Regions from separate parts of the Homo sapiens genome. Here region 2 is linked to region 1. The links come from fine-mapping of genetic effects on gene expression. Tissue or cell type: whole blood. Region 1 holds a variant in brackets; the other region holds the start of a gene. All regions are shown on one strand. Distances are between the middles of the regions.

Region 1 (10,230 bases):
GAAATAGTTAAGATAAGGTCTTAACTTACTAGAATAGGGTGGGCCTTTAACCCAGTATGACTGATGTTATGAGTAAGAAGACACTGTGAAGACATAGTGAGAAGGCTATATGACAACAGAGTTATGCAGCCTCAAGCCAAGTACCACCAACATGACACCAGAAGCTAAGAGAAAGGCAGGGAACAGATTCTCCCCCAAGAGCCTTCGAGGGCATGTCCTTGCAGACACCTTGATTTTGGCTTCTAGCCTCCAGAAATGTGAGACAATAGTTCGTGGTACCTTGTTACAGCAGTCCTAGAAAACAAATACATAGAACCCAAAAGCTTTTCTGTATGCCAGCAGTAGCCAAATATAATTGAAAAAAGGATTTCCAGTGAGAGTCAAAAAGACATTTAAAAAGAATGACTTGTACTGTATATGGAGAGTTAATATTGTGAAAATGTGAATTCTCTCTATGTTAATCTGTAAATTCAATGAAATAAAGCACAGAAGGGCTTTAGCAGAGGGGAGAATTTGAGGAAATGGTTCTAAAATCCAATTAAAATTTTTTTAACAGGCAAGAATGACTGCCGGGGATGGGATCTGAAAAAGAATAGTGGTAAGAGGGAACTACCTCTGCTCACTAGTAAAACTTTGTTAAGTTACAATAATTCAATGTATGGTAAAAGAAGAGAAGATCAAACAATAAGAGTCCAGAAGCAAACCCAAATTTATATGAATATAAATTTAGTATATGATAAAGGCTATTTCAGATCCTTGGGGGAAAAATATGGAGCTGGATCTCTATTTCACCTCTCACACCAAAATGCATCTCAAATGAATCAAAAATTTCAGTATAAAATGGAAAAGAAAATGTAGAAGAAAACACTGGTGAATCTAATAGACTAACAATTTTTAAGTTGATATACAATGAGGGTATAGGGAAATGGAAAATGAAACACACTGTTGGTGAGAATATTTTAAAGATGGCAATTCTCCACAAAGTAACATATATCTGTAATACAAGAAGTATTAAACTTATAAAGAGAAAAATAAGTGGTGAGACTGTTCAAGAATTGAGACAGAGTCTCCCTCTGTAGCCCAGGCTGGAGTGCAATGGTGCGATCTCGGCTCACTGCAACCTCCGCCTCCCGGGTCCTGGTTCAAGCAGTTCTCCTGCCTCAGCCTCCCCGAGTAGCTAGGATTACCGGCATGCACCACCACGCCCAGCTAATTTTTGTATTTTTAGTAGAGACGGGGTTTCGCCATGTTGGCCAGACTGGTCTTGAACTCCTGACCTCGTGATCCGCCCTCCTCGGCCTCCCAAAGTGCTGGGATTACAGGTGTGAGCCACTGTGCCCGGCCAAGAAAATCTTAAAAATGGAGAATTGGTGAGGGAGAAAGAGGATAAATGTAGGAGGCATTGCAGTTGGGTATTTGAAATTTAAAACTCCTGCATGTAAAACAGTGAAACTGGCATGAGATTGAACTGTCAGAATAAAGTAGAAAACCCACACCATACCCGAATATATATCAATACATAAATATCTGATAGAGGTGGCATCTTAAGTTCGTGGTAAAAGGATGGATAATTCCCATTCCAATAAATAGAAAAGTCAGTTCTTGAGAAAAATAAAAATAGATTTGTCTCACCTCACACAATAAAATAAAGCTTAAATAGATTAAAGAATTTATGCAACAAATATTTCTCAAACCTTTTATTAGCTAGGCATTATTCTGGTCCTGGGATGCAGTAGTGAGCAAGACAGACACAGATCTTTGCTTTTAAGGAGCATACAACTCACAGAGGTTGATAATAAATAAGCAAGAAGATATCGGAGGCATGTTCTGTGCATAAAATGAAAACAAGCTGGTGTGATAGAGAACAACCAGATGATGAGGGAAGGCCTTTCTGAAGAGATGTTTAAGCTAGGCTCTGATTCAGAACCTCAACAAAGAGAAGTGGACTGCAAGCAAAAGAAAAGCTACTCTGACGCCTAAGACAAGAAAAGGCTGGGTGAGTTCAAAGAAAGGAGACCAGTGAGGCTAGAGTTAAGTGAATGATGGGGAAAGTAGTACATGAATTTTTAGGACTTTGTAAACCAAGGAAAGAAATTAAGGTTCTATTCTAATGAGAAGCCACAGATTTTAAGCAAGAGAGTGAAATGGTTTAATTACAGCATTGTTTAAAGATCCTGTGGCTCTTAGAAACTGAGTCATAGGGGGCAAAAATGAGAGCAGAGAAAGGCTTCTGTAATAGTACAGAGTTAAATGTAAGAAATAAAACGTAAAAAACCAAGAATATTTTACTTAAGATTTAATCTGCAAATGGAAAATCAATTTCTAAAAATATAAAGACTACATTTTGTTGAACAAAAAATTGTGAATGTCTTTTTCAAAATAGAACTAACTAAATTACATAACAAACATCAGACTAGGATAAAAGATTAAGGATTTTAATAGGTAATTAATATTTTTAATATATTAGAAACAGGCATGGTGCCTCACACCCATAAACCCAGCACTTTGGGAGGCCAAGGCAGGAAGATTGCTTCAGCCTAGGAGTTTGAGGCCAGCCTGGGCAACATAGTGAGATCCCATCTCTATTAAAATATATATATGTGTATATACATACTATATATATGAAGATAGATCAGTTACTTTTAATTCGGCCATCCCCTTCTCTGTAGCCAAAGTTATATCTAGTTCTTTTTATTGGGAATTCTTAGGAAAAACTCACTTATTGAATTCTTCTCAAATCTTTTTCCTTTTTTAATAAGCTCAAAAGACATGAGTCTTCCATTTTTGTCCTCCAGCGCCTCACTAAACATCACCCACGCACACTGTCCGCACCTGTCCTCATTCCCTTTCGTCTGCCAGCACACACAAATCTTAGGGAACCTTATGGTTTCTGTTTTGTAGTCTGAAGGGAGTAGCACAGTAAGGCCAATTGGATACAAGTAAAAGCACATCGGCTGGTATTACATAGTGCTTTACATGTCTGCATGTGCCTGAGCCATCATGGAGAACAGTTGAGTATACAGTGATTAAGAGCCCTGATTCTGGAGCCAAACAACTTGAATTCAAATCTGCTTAGCTGTATGACTTCATGATTCAGCAAGTTACTTAATTTCCAAAATAAAACCTGCTGGTAAAGCAAAGCCAAAAGAAAAAGAAAAAAAGAAAAAAAGAAAAGCCATCAGAGGATGAATGTTTTTAATAAATTTAAAAAGCTCTAACCACCCAACCTAGATCAAGAAAGCAGGCACAACTGCTCCTGCTTCCACCACTGGCAACCAGCTCTGGTGAGATAAGTATCCCAGGACATGGGTATCTACCCAGAGGAAGCGAGGGGAGCGCTTGAAATGGAATTTTGAACTAATTATCATGGGAGCAAGCTGAACATTCTGAAAGCATCTGGTATCTGCCAGAGGATGGACTCAGTGAAGAAACGGAGAGAAAAATTAAGGGCAGTTTTAGAAATTAGTCTACTTGGCCAGGCGCGGTGGCTCATGCCTGTAATCCCAGCACTTTGGGAGGCCAAGGGGGTGTGGATCACGAAGTCAGGAGTTTGAGACCAGCCTGGCCAAGATGGTGAAACCCCCGTCTCTACTAAGAATACAAAAAATTAGCTGGACGTGGTGGCACGTGCCTGTAGTCCCAGCTACTCAGGAGGCTGAGGCAGGAGAATCACTTGAACCCAGGAGGCGGAGGTTGCAGTGAGCCGAGATCACGTCACTGCACTCCAGCCTGGGCGACAGAGCAAGATCTCATCTTAAAAAAAAAGAAAAAAGAAAGAAAGAAATAAGTCTACTTATTTAAAAATCTCTTTAAAAAACAAACAAAAATAATGTTACAGGTGTGTAAGAAAAGGCAAACATCCCATTAGGAAAAAAAAACAGCAAATAACATGAATAGTCAATATGTAAAAGGAGTACAAATTGCCAACAAATATATGAATGTTTATGGTCAACCTCATAAATAAGTAAAGAAATGCATATTTGAACAATGAGATTACCCTACCTTCCAGTCAATTTGACAAGGAATTTTAAAAATTCTTATATAAACATGGGAAATTTGGGGTAACAGACACTTCAGCACACCGTGGTAGAAGTAGAAATAAGCAATAAGAATATAATGCCTTGCTGGGCGCAGTGGCTCACGCCTGTAATCCCAACATTTTGGGAGGCCAAAGCAGGCAGATCACTTGAGGCCAGGAGTTCAAGACCAGCCTGACTAACATGGTGAAACCTCGTCTCT[G/A]CTAAAAATACAAAAATTAGCCAGGTGTGGTGGCAGGCATCTGTACTCCCAGCTACTTGGGAGGCTGAGGCAGGAGAATTGATTGAACCAGGACCCGAGAGGAAGAGGTTGCTGTGAGCTGAGATGGCGCCACTGCACTCCAGCCTGGGTAACAGAGTGAGACTTTGTTTCAAAAAAATAAAAATAATGCCTTAAACATGTGCATTCCCTAAAACCATTAGGTGAAATACTAATGACAAACGATATGAACGGTTTAGGCTGATAAGAGCTAAACCCTCTGATTGATTTAACGTCACTAAAACAGTGACAGCCAGACACTACAGGACTCCTAATGAGCTGCAATACAAAGAACACAGTACTGTCTCTGAAGTACTTTTGCCTAAGTGTCAAACCTGAAACTGGTCAAACCTCTGGCTCTAACTACCAGTGTATAGGAAATGCTGAGGGCAGAGGAATATATTAAATGACACCACCAGGATGTGGAAATTCTCCAGAAAAAAAGACATAGTTTTTTCAATAAATTCAAGTAAATAAATATGTGGACCTTGTTTGGACTCTCAACTTGTTCAAATACTTTTTAAAAAAAATGTGTGAAACAATTGGAGAAATTTGAACAGTTACTAATTAATCGATGATGTTAAAGAATTAATGTTAATTTATTAGGTGTGGTAATATTATTGTGATTATGTTTGTGGGGGGAAAAGAAAGGTCAAGGGGTGATATGGTTTGGCTGTGTCCCCACCCAAATCTCAATTTGAATTGTAGCTCCCATAATTCCCACGTGTTGTTGTGGGAGGGACCAGGTGGGAGATAATTTGAATCATGGGGGCAGTTTCCCCCATATTGTTCTCGTGGTAGTGAATAAGTCTCACGAGATCTGATGGGTTTATCAGGGGTTTCCGCTTTTGCGTCTTCCTCATTTTCTCTTGCCGCTGCCAGATAAGAAGTGGCTTTCGCCTCCCACCATGATTCTGAGGCCTCCTCAGCCATGTGAAACTGTAAGTCCAATTAAACCTCTTTTTCTTCCCAGTCTCGGGTATGTCTTTATCAGCAGCGTGAAAACTGACTAATAAACAGGGTAAGTGTGCCATATTTTTTAGAGATTCTGTCGAAGTGTGTATTAACTACATTACAACATGGCTGAGTTTTTCTTTCAAATAACCCAACAGGGTGTGGGATATGGAGTGGGGAGGCATAGATGAAACAAACTTGACAATGTGTTGACCACTGAAGCTCATTCATGGGTAGATATGAGTTCATCATACTCTTCTCTCTACTTTTCTATAGGTTTGTAACACTCTAAACATTGTTGATGCATACTTTTTTAAGAAAACTGTAAGGAGAGTGTAAACAAATATTTGTGACACTGGCTGCCTCAGGAGAACAGAGAAAGGAACCAGTACTGTAGAAGGGAACAGAAGGAATTTAAACTTTATCTGCACTGTTAAATTCATTCATTTTTAAAACCATTCCTGGCAGGGCGCAGTGGCTTACACCTGTAATCCCAGCACTTTGGGGAGGCCGAGGCAGGCGGATCATGAGGTCAGGAGATCGAGACCATCCTTGCTAACACGGTGAAACCCTCTCTACTAAAAATACAAAAAATACGAAAAAAAAAAAATTAGCCGGGCATGGTGGCGGGCGCCTGTAGTTCTAGCTACTTGGGAGACTGAGGCAGGACTTGAACCCGGGAGGCAGAGCTTGCAGTGAGCCGAGTGAGCCACTGCACTCCAGCCTGGGCAACAGAGCTAGACTCTGTCTAAAAAAATAAAAAATAAATAAAAAATAAACATTACTGAATATTCATTGCTCAATCTTTTCTTATCATATGACCTATGGAAAAGAAAGTTATACTTTTAATTATAGCAGAAAAGAATAAAGTAACATTATAAAATGGAAACCTTATTTTGTATAGTGCTTTATAGTTTGCAAACCTCTTTCACATTCATTGTGCAGTTTGGAACACAAATGGTATTTTCCACTTCTTCAAATCAGCCTGTGATACTTTGAAAAAAGCAGGTGGTGTTATTATGGAAACTGAGGCTTGCCAAAGGTCACAGAGATGGCACAATGAAATGTCTAATAAGTCAGCTGTGTCTGTGTAATATGAGAGAAATTCCTGTTTTATGACATTGCCATTGAGCAAGCTAACGTCCATGATTGCCTAACTCTACCATGAGTTGTTTCAAAGTAGGATGAAGAGTAAAGTGTTTAGGGCTGGGTGCAGTGGCTCATGCCTGTAATCCCAGCATTTTGGGAGGCCAAGGCAGGCAGATCACCAGAGGTCAGAAGTTCGAGACCAGCCTGGCCAACATAGTGAAACCCTGTCTCTACTAAAAATACAAAAATTAGCCGGGTGTGGTTGTGGGTGCCTGTAATCCTACTCAGGAGGCTGAGGCAGGAGAATCACTTGAACCTGGGAGGCAGAGGTTACAGTGACCTGAGATCGCGCCACTGCACTCCAGCCTGGGTGACAGAGAGAGACTCTGTCTAAAAAAAAAAAAAAAAAAAAGTAAAGTGTTTAAATAAAATAAAGAAAATATTTTTTCAAGTTTTTCAAGTAAGAATTTCTTAAGACACAAAAAAGTGAAATACTCAAAGAAAAAATTGATCAATTTGACATGAAAAAAACTACAGAAGGGAAAGACTAGTCACAAACTGGAAAAATATATTTATAATACATCTAACAAAAGATTGGTATCTAGAATATATGCATAAATCACTAAAAACCAAAAGGAAATAGCTTAATAGAAAAATAGGCAAAGAACACAAGGTGGCATTTCACAAAAGAGCCAGAAAATGATCAATAAATACTTCAAAGGAACACTTACTTCATTTGTAATCAAAGAAAGTTACAAGATAGGTGCTTTGTGCAATACTTATGTAGAAATGAGACGTAAAAGTTACTACACAGTTATAAATGCATATTTCATGTTCCAATAATAGTAAGGTGTTACCCTCTTTTGAACTGCCAAGACTCCCCCACCCTTTTTTAAAGATTTTTTTTTAGAGGAGTTTTAGGTTCACAGCAAAATTGAGTGGAAGGTACAGAGATTTCCCATACACTTTCTGACCCCACACATGCACAACCTCCCCATCATCAGCATTCCACCAGAGTGGTACATTTGTTACAACTGATGAACCTACCTTGGCACATCATGATCATCAAAAATTCATAGTTTAAGCTGGGCGCAGTGGCTTATGCCTGTAATCCCAGCACTTTGGGAGGCTGAGGTGGGCAGATCACTTGAGGTCAGGAGTTTGAGACCAGCCTGGACAACATGGTGAAACCCTGTCTCTACTAAAAGTACAAAACTCAGCCAGGCATGGTGTGCGCACCTGTAATCTGAACTACTCAAGGGGCTGAGGTAGGAGAATAGCTTGAACCCGTGAGGCGGAGGTTGCGGTGAGCCAAGATCGTGCCACTGCACTCCAGCCTGGTTTACAGAATGAGACTCCATCTCAAAAAAAAAAAATTTCATAGTTTACATTAAGGTTCACTTTTGGTGTTGTACATTCTATGTGTTTGGACAATGTTATATATCCTTCACTATAGTATTGTACAGAGCATTTTCACTGCCCTAAAAATCCTCTGTGCTTCAGCTATTCATCCTTCCTCCATCCCCTCTGCAACCCCTGGCAATCACTGATCTTTTTATTGTCTTTGTATTTTGCATTTTTCAGAATGCCATATAATTGGAATCATATAGTATGTAGCCTTTTCAGATTCACTTCTTTCACTTAGTAATATACTTTTAAGTTTCCTCCATGTCTTTTCATAGCACTGAAGGAAATTCACTGTCTGGCCAGGCATGGTGGCTCATGCCTGTAGTCCCAGCACTTTGGGAGGCTGAGGTGGGCAGATTGCTGGAGCCCAAGATTTCAAGACCAGCCTGGGCAATATGAAAACCCATCTCTACAAAAAAATACAAAGATTAGCCGGGCGTGGTGGTGCACACCTGTAGTCCTAGCTACTTGGGAGGCTGAGTTAGAAGGATCACTTGAACCCAGGAGACTGAGGCTGTCTTGAGCTGAGACTGTGCCACTGCACTCTAGTCTGGGTGACAGAGCAAGACTCTGTCTCAAAAAAAAAAAAAAAAAAAGAGAAAGAAAAAAGAATGAAAAGAAGATTTACTGTCTGGTTGTATTATAGTTTATTTATCCATTCACCTACTGAAAGACATATTGGTTGCTTCCAAGTTTTGGCAATTATGAATAAAGCAACTAAAAACATTTATGTGCAGGTTTTTGTTTGGACATAAGTTTTCAACTCCTTTAGGTAAATACCAAGGGGTGTAATTGCTGGATCATATGGTTAAGAGTATGTTTAGTTTTGTAAGAACCTCCAAACTGTCTTCGAAAGAGACTGTCACATTTTGCATTCCACCAGCAACAAATGAGAATTTTTGTTCCACATCTATGCCAGCATTTGGTATTGTCAGTGTTCTAGATTTTGACCATTCTAATAGATGTGTAGTTGTAGCTCATAGTTGTTCTAGTTTGCATTTCCCTGATGACAAATGATGTGGAGCATCGTTTCATATGATTATTTCCCATCTGTATATCTTCTTCGGTGAAGTGGTTGTTAAAGTCTTTTAGCCCATCTTAAAATTGGGTTATTTGTTTTCTTATTTTTGAGTTTTAATAGTTCATCATATATTTTGGCTAACAGCCCTTTGTGAGATGTGCCTTTTGCAAATATTTTTTTCCCAGTCTGTGGCTTGTCCTTAAAATTGGGTCATTTATTTTCTTATTGTTGAGTTTTAAGAGTTCATTGTATATTTTGGATAACAGTCCTTTATCAAATATGTCTTTTGCAAATATTTTTTCCCAGTCTGTGGCCTCTCTTCTCATTATCTTGACATTGTGTTTGCAGAGCAGAAGTTTTTAATTTCAATGAAGTATAGTTTATCAATTATTTATTTCATGGATCATGACTTTGTTCTTGTATCTAAAAAATCAACACCAAACCCAAGGTCATCTAGGTTTTCTCCTTTGTTAACTTCTAGAAGTTTTAAAGTTTTGTATTTACACTTAGGTCTATGATACATTTTGAGTTCATTCTTGTGAAGGGTGTAAAGTCTTTTGTGAAGGGTATAACTCTAGATTTTTTTTTTTTTTTTTTTGCATTTGGACATTTAGTTGTTCCAGCACCATCTGTGGAAAAGACCATGTTTGCTCCATGTTCTTACCTTTACTTCTTTGTCAAGATCATTTGACTATATTTATGTGTATCTATTTCTGGGCTTCTGTTTTGTTCTATTGGTCCACTTGTCTGTTCTTTTGCCAGTACCACAGTCTTGATTACTGCAGCTTTGTAGTAACTCTTGAATTGGGTAGTATCAGTCTTCTACCTTTGTCCTTCCCCTTCAACATGGTGTTAGTTATTCTGGGTCTTTCGGTCCTCTATATAAACTTTAGCATCAGGCCAGGTACAGTGGCTCACGCCTGTAATCCCAGCACTTTGAGAGGCCGAGGCCAGTGGATCACCTGAAGTCAGGAGTTCCAGACCTGGCCAACGTGGTGAAACCCTATCTCTACTAAAAATACAAAAATTAGCTGGGCATGGCGGCAGGTGCCTGTAATCCCAACTACTCGGGAGGCTGAAGCAGGAGAATCACTTGAACCCAGGAGGTAGAGGTTGCAGTGAGCCGAGATCATGACATTGCACTCCAGCCTGGACAACAAGAGTGAAACTTCATCTCAAAAAAACAAACAAAAAAAAAACATTTAGAATCAGTTTGCTGATTCTTACAACCTTAGGTTATAATTTTTGAGGTGACATGTTCTCTGATAAACATCACTTATTTCTGCATATTTAGTGTTCCTTCCCACAGGAGAATTGTACACACTTCGTTTTTGAAGTCAGGTGTGGCCATGTGACTTGAATAATGTGCTGAGATTTGTCTGTGATTGCACTGACTCTACAGATCAAGTTGGGAAGAACTAACATCTTGAGAATATTGTCTTCCTATCCATGAATCTCAAATG
Region 2 (10,230 bases), 95 kb before region 1:
GTCAACTGTAGGACCTCAACCTTCCAAGATTGGCAATGCAAGAATTATCACTCAGGGAGGAGATGGCTAGACTTTTCTCTTGTTCTGCCAGATTCACTCAGTGCTGTTAATCTCTCAGATCTCTTCAACCCTAAATCTCAAAGGTGGATGGACTTATCCCTTGTAAAGACCTTTATAAACTCATTCCTGTAGTTCACCTGAGGCCAGGCTGGAATATTTAAACAGTATTCAATTAGGTTTAAGGATAACAGAACAAAAGGGTGCTAGACAGTGAGAAATGCAGCTTAGTTAGTTTCCATTTCAAATGCTGGAGGGCATCTCCCTGCCTAGATTCTGCAGGCCTCCCTACAGTTAGTACTCTCCTGAACTGACCTGAAATGGCCTTCCATCAGCCTGCCTCCTCAGAGTCCAGACCCGAAAGAGCAAAGCCCAGAGGAAGATGGTGTGTGTGGGGAGGTGGGGATTCAGGTTGTCTTAGTAGTCATCTTGCTGCAATGGGAAGTCTCTGTGACATATTATTAAATGGAAAACAAAAGGATTGTTCAAACAGCACTTATTTACATTCAAGAAATATTTATTAACTGCTGTGCGTAAGGCTTTGCTACATGTTGGGATACAGTGGTGAATAAGTCAAACATGAGTCCTTTTCATACAAAATTATGAATCAGACATGAATTCAGCATGATATCATTAACGATAATATGTACATTTTTATATTCATATGAATGTGAATTCTACCATGCTGTTAGTTTCTTATTTGGGACCTCTTTCCAAAATGACTTATTTATTTAACAAACTTTATGTTTGTTAAATATTATGTTGACAAAAAGAGTTAAACTCTGTGAAATACTTCAAGAGATTTATTCTGACCCAAATATGAGTGACCAATGGGCTGTGACATAGGCCCAGGAGATCCTGAGAACATGTGCCCAAGGTGGCCAGGTACTGGCCCAAGGTACCTCGGTGGCCCAAGGTACTGCTTGGTTTTACCCATTCTAGGGAGACATAAGACATCAATCAATACATGTAAGATGTACATTGGTTCAGTCTAGAAAGGTGGGACAACTGGAAAAGGGGGGTCATCCAGGACATAGGCAGATTCAAAGATTTTCTGATTGGCAATTGGTTGAAAGAGTTATTATCTAGAGACCTGGAATCAATAGAAAGGAAGGTCTGGGTTATGATAAGGGGTTGTGGACACCAAGGTTTTATCTTTCAGATGAGGCCTCCATGTAGCAGGCTTCAGAGAGAACAGATTGCAAATATTTCTTTTTTTCTTTTTTTTTTTTGAGACTGAGTTTTGCTCCTGTTTCCCAGGCTGGAGTGCAATGGCACAATCTCAGCCCACCACAACCTCTGCCTCCTGGGTTCAAGTGATTCTCCTGCCTCAGCCTCCCGAGTAGCTGGGATTACAGGCATGCGCCACCATGCCTGGCTAATTTTGTATTTTTAGCAGAGACAGGGTTTCACCATGTTGGTCAGGCTGGTCTCGATCTCCTGACCTCGTGATCCTCCTGCCTCAGCCTCCCAAAGTGCTGGGATTACAGGTGTGATCCACTGCACCCAGCCTGATTGCAAATATTTCTTATCAGACTTACAGAGTCTGTTCTATTGGTCTTAAGGTCACTTGTTAATGGTCAGCTGTGCTTGAATTACAAAAGAGAGGAGGGTATAAAGAGGCATGTCTGATTCCCCCTTCCCTTCGTGGGCTGACCTAGTTTTTCAGGTTAACTTTGGAATGCCCTTGGCTGAGAGGAGGGGTCCATTCAGATAGCCCGGGGTGGGGTGGGGGTTCACAATTTTATTTTGGTTTACATTCATGTGGGGCTTAATAAGTACCAGCACTATCCTAAGCACTTTACAATTATTAGCTCATTTAAGTTTTTCATCATCTACCTTTTACAGAAGAAAGAAACTGGGGCATAGAGAGGTTAAGTAACTTGTCCAATATTACACAGTTAGTAAGATGCAGAGCTAGGATTGACCCCAGGCAGTCTAGTCCCAGGGTTCACATTCTTAACCACTATTGTAAACTCCTGAAACCTGAAACAAGTCTTTCTGATTCTTATCCTTAAAGGCGGCGCCAAACTCCTTAATCTTAACCCATAGACTCAAGAATACAATATAGAATGGTTGTCCCCTGATATCTGTGGGGTATTGGTTACAGAACTGCTAAGGATATCAAAACTCATGCTTGAGTGCACACAGAAGTTCCCTAGTTGGCCCTAAGAAACCCACAGAAAAGTGGGCCTTGCCTATATGTGGGTTTCTGCATCCTGGGAATACTGTATTTTCCATCCTTGTCTGGTTGTGGATGCAAAACCTGCCAATATGGAGGGCTGACTGTATTTATTGAAAAAACTCTTCTTCTAAGTGGGCCTGTTGCCAGAAAGCAGTCCCCATCCAGACCCCAGGAGCAAGTTCTTGTATCTCGTGCAAGAAAGAATTTGGGGCAAGTCTATAAAGTGAAATGAAGTTTATTAAGAAAGTAAAAAAATGAAAGAACGGCTACTGAATACAGCAGTGGCATGGGCTGCTTGACTGAGTATACTTATGGTTGTTTCTTGATTATATGCTAAACAAGGGGTGGATTATTCATGAGCTTTCCAGGAAAGGGTGGGGAGTTCCTGGGACTGAGGGTTCCTTTCCTTTTTAGACCATATAGGGTAACTTCCAGGTATTGCCATGGTATTTGTAAATAGTCAGGGTGCTGGTGGGAGTTTATTTTATTATGCTAATACATTATAATTAGCATATAATGAACATTGAGGACAACCAGAAAACACTTTTGTCACCATCTTGGTTTCGGTGGGGTTTGGCCAGCTTCTTTACAGCATCCTGTTTTATCAGCAGGGTCTTTGTGGTCTGTGTCTAGTGAAACCAGTCCTGCCAACCTCCCATCTTATCCTGTGATTAAGAATGCCTAACCTCCTGGGAAGAGAGCCCAGCAGATCTCAGCCTCATATTACCCAGACCCTATTCAAGATGGAGTTGCTTTGGTTCAAACACCTCTGACACACCTGCACAATTCGAAACTGTTGTTCAAGGGTCAACTGTATACACAGACACAGATAAACTCACAAAGTGTCCTCCAGAGCCTGGGAATGGGCCTGGAAACACACAATGGCAGTAGCAGCAGAGGTCTTTTGGCTGCTGACATTTACTGATTATTGATTTATAGTAAAGGCACAGATACAAATCAATTAAAACAAAGAGAAAGGGGGCAAAAGGAGGGAGGCAGAATTGGGGATTGGGGGGAAATAGCAGGTATTTGTATTGGGAAGCCTAGTTTGAGAGAAACTCCTGCAAATTAGCACAAAACTGAGCTCTGAGCTTCTTGAAACCAAAGCAAAAAAGGAAAATATGACGAGTTACATGGTTTTTGCTACCTAATCAAAGGAAAGACCTTAACGGTAGCAAAAGCCCTAGCTGCACCATCTTTTGGTTTGTGGCTTGTAGCTGCTGTTTGTGTGTGTGTGTGTGTGTGTTTGTGTGTGTGTGTGCATGTCATTTTGCTTTGGTAAGTTTGCTGTTGTGTTTTATCTACCCCTCCCTCCAGTATTTCACAGCGCTGCTGTGTGACTTGGAATTGCACATCAGTATACCAGCCAGCAGAATAAAAATATTTATTGAATTCTGTGCCCATTGTGCACAAAACACAGGTGGAGGAGGTTGGGGAAGGAAGATTTATGGAAGACAAGAATCTTGCCTCTAAACATGTTTATGAACCAGGATTTATAACTACGAAGCTGAACAAAACCCTTACGAAGGACCAAACAATAATTTGAAAAAGAAATATACTAAAAATAATGATGACTACTGGGTGACTCCAAAGCATCCAGGGAAGATTGAACAGGTGGGGTGAGTCATAGTAGACTTTGCTCAGTTTTGATCCTGGATTTAAAGTAACGGCCTTGGGCTGGCGGGATAGAAGGGGATTCCAGGACCAGTCATGAAAGTGAGAATGAGTAAGTCAGGCTAGGGAAGGAAAAAGACAGTCATATGGGTGTCTTTGAAGGATGGTACCAAGAAATTTTAAAAAGGGGGTGGGCTCGGTGGCTCATGACTGTAATCCCAGCACTTTTGGAGGGTGAGGTGGGCCTCACCTGAGGTCAGGAGTTCTAGCCAGCCTGGCCAACGTGGTGAAACCCCGTTTCTACTAAAAATACAAAAAAAAAAAAAAAAAAAAATTAGCCAGGCATAGTGGAACGCGCCTATAATTCCAGCTACTCTAGGGGCTGAGGCAGGAGAATCACTTGAACCCAGGAGGCGGAGGTTGCAGTGAGCCGAGATCAAGCCACTGCACGACAGAGTGAGAATCTGTCTCAAAAAAAAAAAAAAGAAAAAGAAAAAGAAAAGCAATTTTAAAAAGGGCGATTCTGCCCTGTATTCCTCAGGAGATTCTCTTAGGAAGGGACTGCTAGAGCTCACTGTAGATGTGCCTCATTTTATGCAACAAATATATTTTTGAACATATAAAATAGTCAAATGTTGTTCAGCATCTACCATGCGTCAGACAATGAGCTAGGTGTTTTAACCCTTATACCTAATCTGTAAAATGGACATTATTATTTCCATTTTGCAGACTGATCAGCTGCAAGGCTAAACAGCATACGTATCAGTGTTGTCTAGCTAATAGTCTAGCTATTAAAGGGTGGAACCTCGATTGTAAGCCGGTTTGTCTGATTAGGAAGCCCAAGGTTTTGTGTGCGACACACATTCTTGTAAGTTAAATATTTAGGATACACTATAAGTGATCATCTGAAGAAGTTCTGTTAGTCATTTCCTTTGAAAGGCACGTTATCTACAAACCTTCTTGCAGGGATTTGAGGTAAAGGGCAAGGATTTTCTTGACTGCGTGCATGATGGCAGTTTGTTTCACTACACATGCATCACTCTGCCTCATCTGACACCAGATAACGACATCGAAAATACCCTTAATACATTTTTTAGGTCACTCCGTCCATTAAGCAGATAATCCCGCAAAGCAACGTCCCAGAGAGACGTTAGTTTCCCCAAAGGCCCAGGCTGTGGAGACCGGGATAGTGTAACTTGCGCCTGAAGTAAAAAGAGGGGCAGTCCGAGAGAGAGGAGGAGGGCACGTTTCACTACGGGTAAAGGGGCGCACGAGGGGTAAAGGGACTGGCGGGAGCAGGGTACCGCCCTCTAGTAAACCCGCCCCGCGGGGCGTGGCGGGGACGACGGGCCGCGCAGCCTGCGCATGCGCGCCGGCGACCACGCCTAAATAGCCGCAGCCTCTGCGCGTCGCCCTCCACGGTTACCCCGGCTCTCCGCCCCTCCTTCTCGCGGCGCTCGAGGGACCATGGCCGATCCTCGCGTGAGACAGATCAAGATCAAGACCGGCGTGGTGAAGCGGTAAGGAGCCGGGAGCGGCGCCCTGCACCTCCTCTTCGTCACCTCATGGCGGCCCGCGAGGCTGAGCGGAGCGCAGGCCCGAGGAGGCCCGAGGCGGGCTCCGAACTCCAGGCCGCACCCGGGGCTCCGCAGTTGGCTGGGACTGGCAGGGACCCAGCGGGGCGCGCTGACGCCCGAGCCCGCCAGCCTCGCACGCCGCTTCCCGTCCCTCTCCGCTCACTGGCCGCTCTGATTTGCCGGAAGAGTCGGCGGTGGCCCGGTTTCTCGGCGCCCGCGGTGGGAAGGTGGTGGGCCGCGGCCTGCGAGGGCGGGCCGGGCCCTGATCCCGTGCCTCCTGTGTGCGCGCGCCGGCCTCTCCTTGCTGAACTTGGCCCGGGGAAGCGGGATCCCAGCTGTGCTCTCAAATGGGCTTGAAAGCAGGCTCTGAAGTTTAGGGGGATGCGGAGGATCTGGGCCTCGTCAAAAAAGACCGTAGTGGAGCCGTGTGACCTAACATGGCTGGCGTGACTGGCAGGCTTTGAGAACTGGGCCTGAACTTCTAGCACACTCAGCAAACTTATGTGGCCTCACTTTCTCCAGTCAGATTCCCCGAAGCTCGCCCCAGAGGCTGTGAGATGCTGTTTAAATAACTTGTGAACCAGAAGTATCTGAGACAGGTCTTAATTTGGAATGTTTATTTTGCCAAGGACGTGCCCATGACACAGCCTCAGGAGGTCCTGATGACATGTGCCCAAGGCGGTTGGGGCACAGCTTGGTGTAATACGTTTTAGGGAGACCTCAGATATTAGTCAATGGGTAAGGTGTACCTTGGTTCCCTCCAGAAAGGCAGGACAACTAGAAGGTTGGGGGGCATCCAGGTCATAGATAAGAGACAAATGGTTGCATTCTTTTGAGTCTTTGATCAGCTTTTCACTTAATACACAATTTACATGTGAGAGAGGGATAGAAGAATAGTCACTTATGCCTTAGTCGGCTAAATGAATCTGCGATTTTACATACACAGTAGGGCAGAGGAAGCAGTCAGTTACGCATTTGTCTCAGGTGGGTAGAGGGGTGACTTTGAGTTCTGTTCTTTGTCCCATACCTGTGAAGATAAGCTATCAATTTACATTGCCAGGGTGAAATACAACAGAACTGTTTTAGAGTGAAGGTCTTGAGGCCCACAAGGAATTTCCTTGGGGGCAAATTGTCAGGGAGGTATGTAGCTTTTTTTTTTTTTTTTTTAATCTTTGTAGCTATCTTATTCAGGAATAAAATGAGAGGCAGGTTTGCTCGATGCAATTCCCAGCTTGACTTTTCTTTTTGGCTTAGTGATTTTGGGGTCCTGAGATTTATTTTTCCTTTCACAAACTCATGGGTAGTGCAGTCCTGTAATTTGCTTAAATTCCTGTAAACCAAGAAAGTACCTGAGACAGGTCTCAATCAGTTTAGAAGTTTATTTTGCCAAGGTTAAGGATATGCCTGTGACAGCCTCAGGAAGTCCTGATGACATGTGCCCGAGGTGGTCAGGCTACAGCTTGGTTTTATACATTTTAGGGAGACAGAAGACATCAATCAATACATGTACGATGTACATTGGTTTGATCTGGAAAGGCAGGACAACCCAAAGCGGGCTGGGGACAGTTCCAAGTTATAGGAGGTTTTCCAATTGGCAGTTCGTTGAAAGAGTTTATCTTAAGACCTGGAATCAATACAAGGGAGTGTGTCTGGGTTAAAATAAAGGGGTTGTGGAGATCAAGGTTCTTATTAGGCAGATGAAGCCTCCAGGTAGCAGGCTTCAGAGAGAATAGATTGTAAATGTTTCTTATCAGACTTAAAAAGGTCCCAGACTCCTAGTTAATTTTCTAGTGGATCAGGAAAAAGACCTGGACAGGGAAGAGGGTTCTCTACAGAATATAGATTTTCCCCTTAAGAGACATCTTTGCAGGGCCAATTCAAAATATGTAAAGAAATATATTTTAGAGTAAAATGCTTTTATTTCTTTCAGATCCCGCTATCTGTCCTGTGATGCCATACTAGAGTAAAGCTGGAATTTGGTGTCTTATTGTTACAAAAAGCCTTAAGATCTGTTTTAATGTTAATGCTGCTCAATTGTTCCTGAGTTCCAAAGGGAGGAATGTGTAATGAGACATGTCTGACCCCCTCTTCCCATCATGGCCTGAATTACTTTAGAATGCCCTTAGTTGAGAGGAGGGGTCCATTCAGACGGTTTTGGAGCTTAGAATTTTGTTTTTAGTTTGCATTCCTGAGTGCTGGTAGACCCTTCAGTGTTCATTAGAACTTTATTGTTCAGACCCAAGAAGAGCAAACTTTTTGATGAAGTATTACAAGAGAAAAGATAAACAGCCTTCTGAAGAAGCAAGTTATTTTGTTGTAGCAATGTCTACTAAAGAAACCAACTGGCTTCTTCCTGTTCGCCCACCTTTCCTTTGTTTATTGATATTTCCACCAGAGGAAGGACCAGGCAAAAGGGAGAATAAATTCACTTTTTAAGATAATGCTTCTGAGTTTTAGCACAGCATCCCACTTCCCGGGAAGCTTTATTGCCAAGGCAATAAGGAGACCATGTGAGTAGGAGTTAAATGCACAGCCATTTGTGAAGTGAGACTGCTTGGGTTCAGATCTTGATTCTGCCCTTTATTCTATGTTGTGGAATATATTACATTGTGCTGTGCCTCTTTTACCTTATTTGTAAAATAGAGCAAGCACCCAACTCAAGCAGTTGTTGCAAGAACTGCCTGCTATGCTGTTTAATACAGTATGTGGCAAATAGCAAGTGGGTAGTAAATGTTAATAATACTGTTTGGATTCTCATTTTACATATGAGAAACTGAGGTTTAATGAAGTTAAAAAAAGAAAAAAAAAACTTGTCTAAAGTCACACTACTAGTTAGTGGCAATGCAAGGAAAAGGACCAAGGTTTCAAATCTACAACTTTCTCCTTTAAGCTACAGTGCTCCCGTAAAGAGTATTTTTAAAATTGGTAATAGGAAGGGAATTGAGATGTATATTTGAAAATATAAATAATCCATCCTGTCCCTCAGCTCAGAGTTCTTTTTACCAGACTTTTACCAGACTGGTTCACTTTTACCAGACTTGCTTGGGTTATGTCATTTTAGTCAGTATATTTGGCAGAACTATCAGGGTGTGTTGCAGAGTGCTGTAGAATGAAAGTCATGAGAAATGACTTCTAATGGTAGTTTCCCATTCATTTACTTATATGACCTTGACATTTCTCATTCCAGTGATCTCTACTAGTTTATAAAATTACTTAGTTCAAGTAGTTATATGCTGACAATACATATTCTAGAGAAAATACTCATTGAGATTATTATAAACTAAGTTTTTGACTTTTCAGAAGTTTTCAATGCTTATGTAAACTGCTTAGAAATAAATTTATCATTTTATGAAACTTGGTGATAGTTTACTATTATCTCAAATTGCTTATAAATTAATGGAAGTGTCTCCCATACATTTTAAAATGACTTTTCTGTTGACATTTTGGGGTATAGCTTCCCACTTATGTATTAAAATGCAATTAAAGAAAAACCCCTAAACTTTCTGTTTTAGCTGCTTGTTACTCACATTTTGCCTTGGTATATCACCATCTAACTCCATAAATATTGTCCCCTATTGTCTCTTGTTATTTTTCACCTGAAAATTATTTTGCTATGACTCTTTCCATCTTCTACCTTAGTATCCTATTTTTATTTTATTATTATTTATTTTTATTTTACTTTAAGTTCTGGGATACATGTGCTGAACGTGCAGTTTTGTTATATAGGTACACATGTGCCATGGTGATATGCTGCACCTGTCGACCCGTCATCTAGGTTTTAAACCCTGCAACCTATTTTTAAAAATCTATATTTTACCTCAGCAAAGTAAAAAATAGATGAGGCAGCAATGGTAACATATTACTAATTGTTGGGGCTGAATGATCATGGGGCTTCATTATATTTTTCTGTACATAAGTTGAACATTTTTCATGATAAAAAGGGTCTAAAAGATATGCTTTTTTCCTCCTCTCTCCAAATTTAGTTTCAAAGATACCTTAATTCATGATTCAGACATGTTCTTGCTTTTGTGAAAGGGATTCTATTCTTTTCTTTTTTTTTTTTTAATCAATGGTTTAAAAACCTATCCTCGACACTATTTTAAATCTGTTCTTGACACTCTTTTTCTGGTTAGACGTTCATTTTCCATAGCCTCATTTATCTTCGGAAGTCACAACCTTTATTTGGAAGAAGAGGTTTAAAGTCATTATTCATGCCCCAAATCCTTCAATTTTCTCTCTAGAAATTGAGAGCAACTAGAAATTATATTCTAGGTATTTGTCCTAGAGTTCAGTTTGGGTAGGCTATACTAGAAAGGGTGGATTAATTTAGTTTCTGATTAGACCTGGTGGAACACTTCAGGTGACTCAGAAGTTCCTGATAGTGGGTCTGAGGAAGAAATGTGGACAGGCAGGTTGAATGTTAGGGGAATATGGAAACAGGCAATAAGTAGATGATGGTATTTGGCGTGTAGGAGATCCAGCCATGCGTGCAAGACGGCCATTTCAGCATGTTGGCAAAATGGCAGAGTTGACCTAATGGATAGCAGCCCACATTATAAAGTAGAAACAAGTTTCAGGGCCAGTATTTTTAGGCCCTGGGAAAATAGGCCGGAGGTTTACGGTGAGTGTCTTGTTCCTAGAGAAACTTTGTTACCTTGTACAGTAAATGGCAAAGCATCTGATTTCTGGGAAGTGAGTTTCAAGAGAGAGAGGTTAGATTACTAGGAATAAAGAAAGAGTCTAGATACTAGGAATGGCTTAGAAGGTGAGAGTTGGACAGAATGAGGCTGAATTGGT

The links. PIP is the estimated chance that this variant, and not a neighbour inherited with it, causes the effect.
Region 2: it holds the start of TBCA, and the variant in region 1 is fine-mapped to the expression of TBCA in whole blood (INTERVAL, PIP above 0.99).

The regions. Positions count from the first base shown.
Region 1 is chr5:77,676,136-77,686,365 of GRCh38, reverse strand. No RefSeq gene overlaps it. Among named protein-coding and RNA genes, the nearest start is that of OTP, 43 kb to the right of the region's middle. The variant G/A (reference allele first, on the strand shown) is at 4,240.
Region 2 is chr5:77,771,351-77,781,580 of GRCh38, reverse strand. TBCA (tubulin folding cofactor A) reads left to right here and starts at 5,242. Exons shown (of 4, transcript NM_004607.3): 1 at 5,242-5,376. The coding sequence starts at 5,324. RefSeq lists silencers at 5,096-5,355, 5,476-5,645 and enhancers at 6,663-7,547, 7,548-8,433.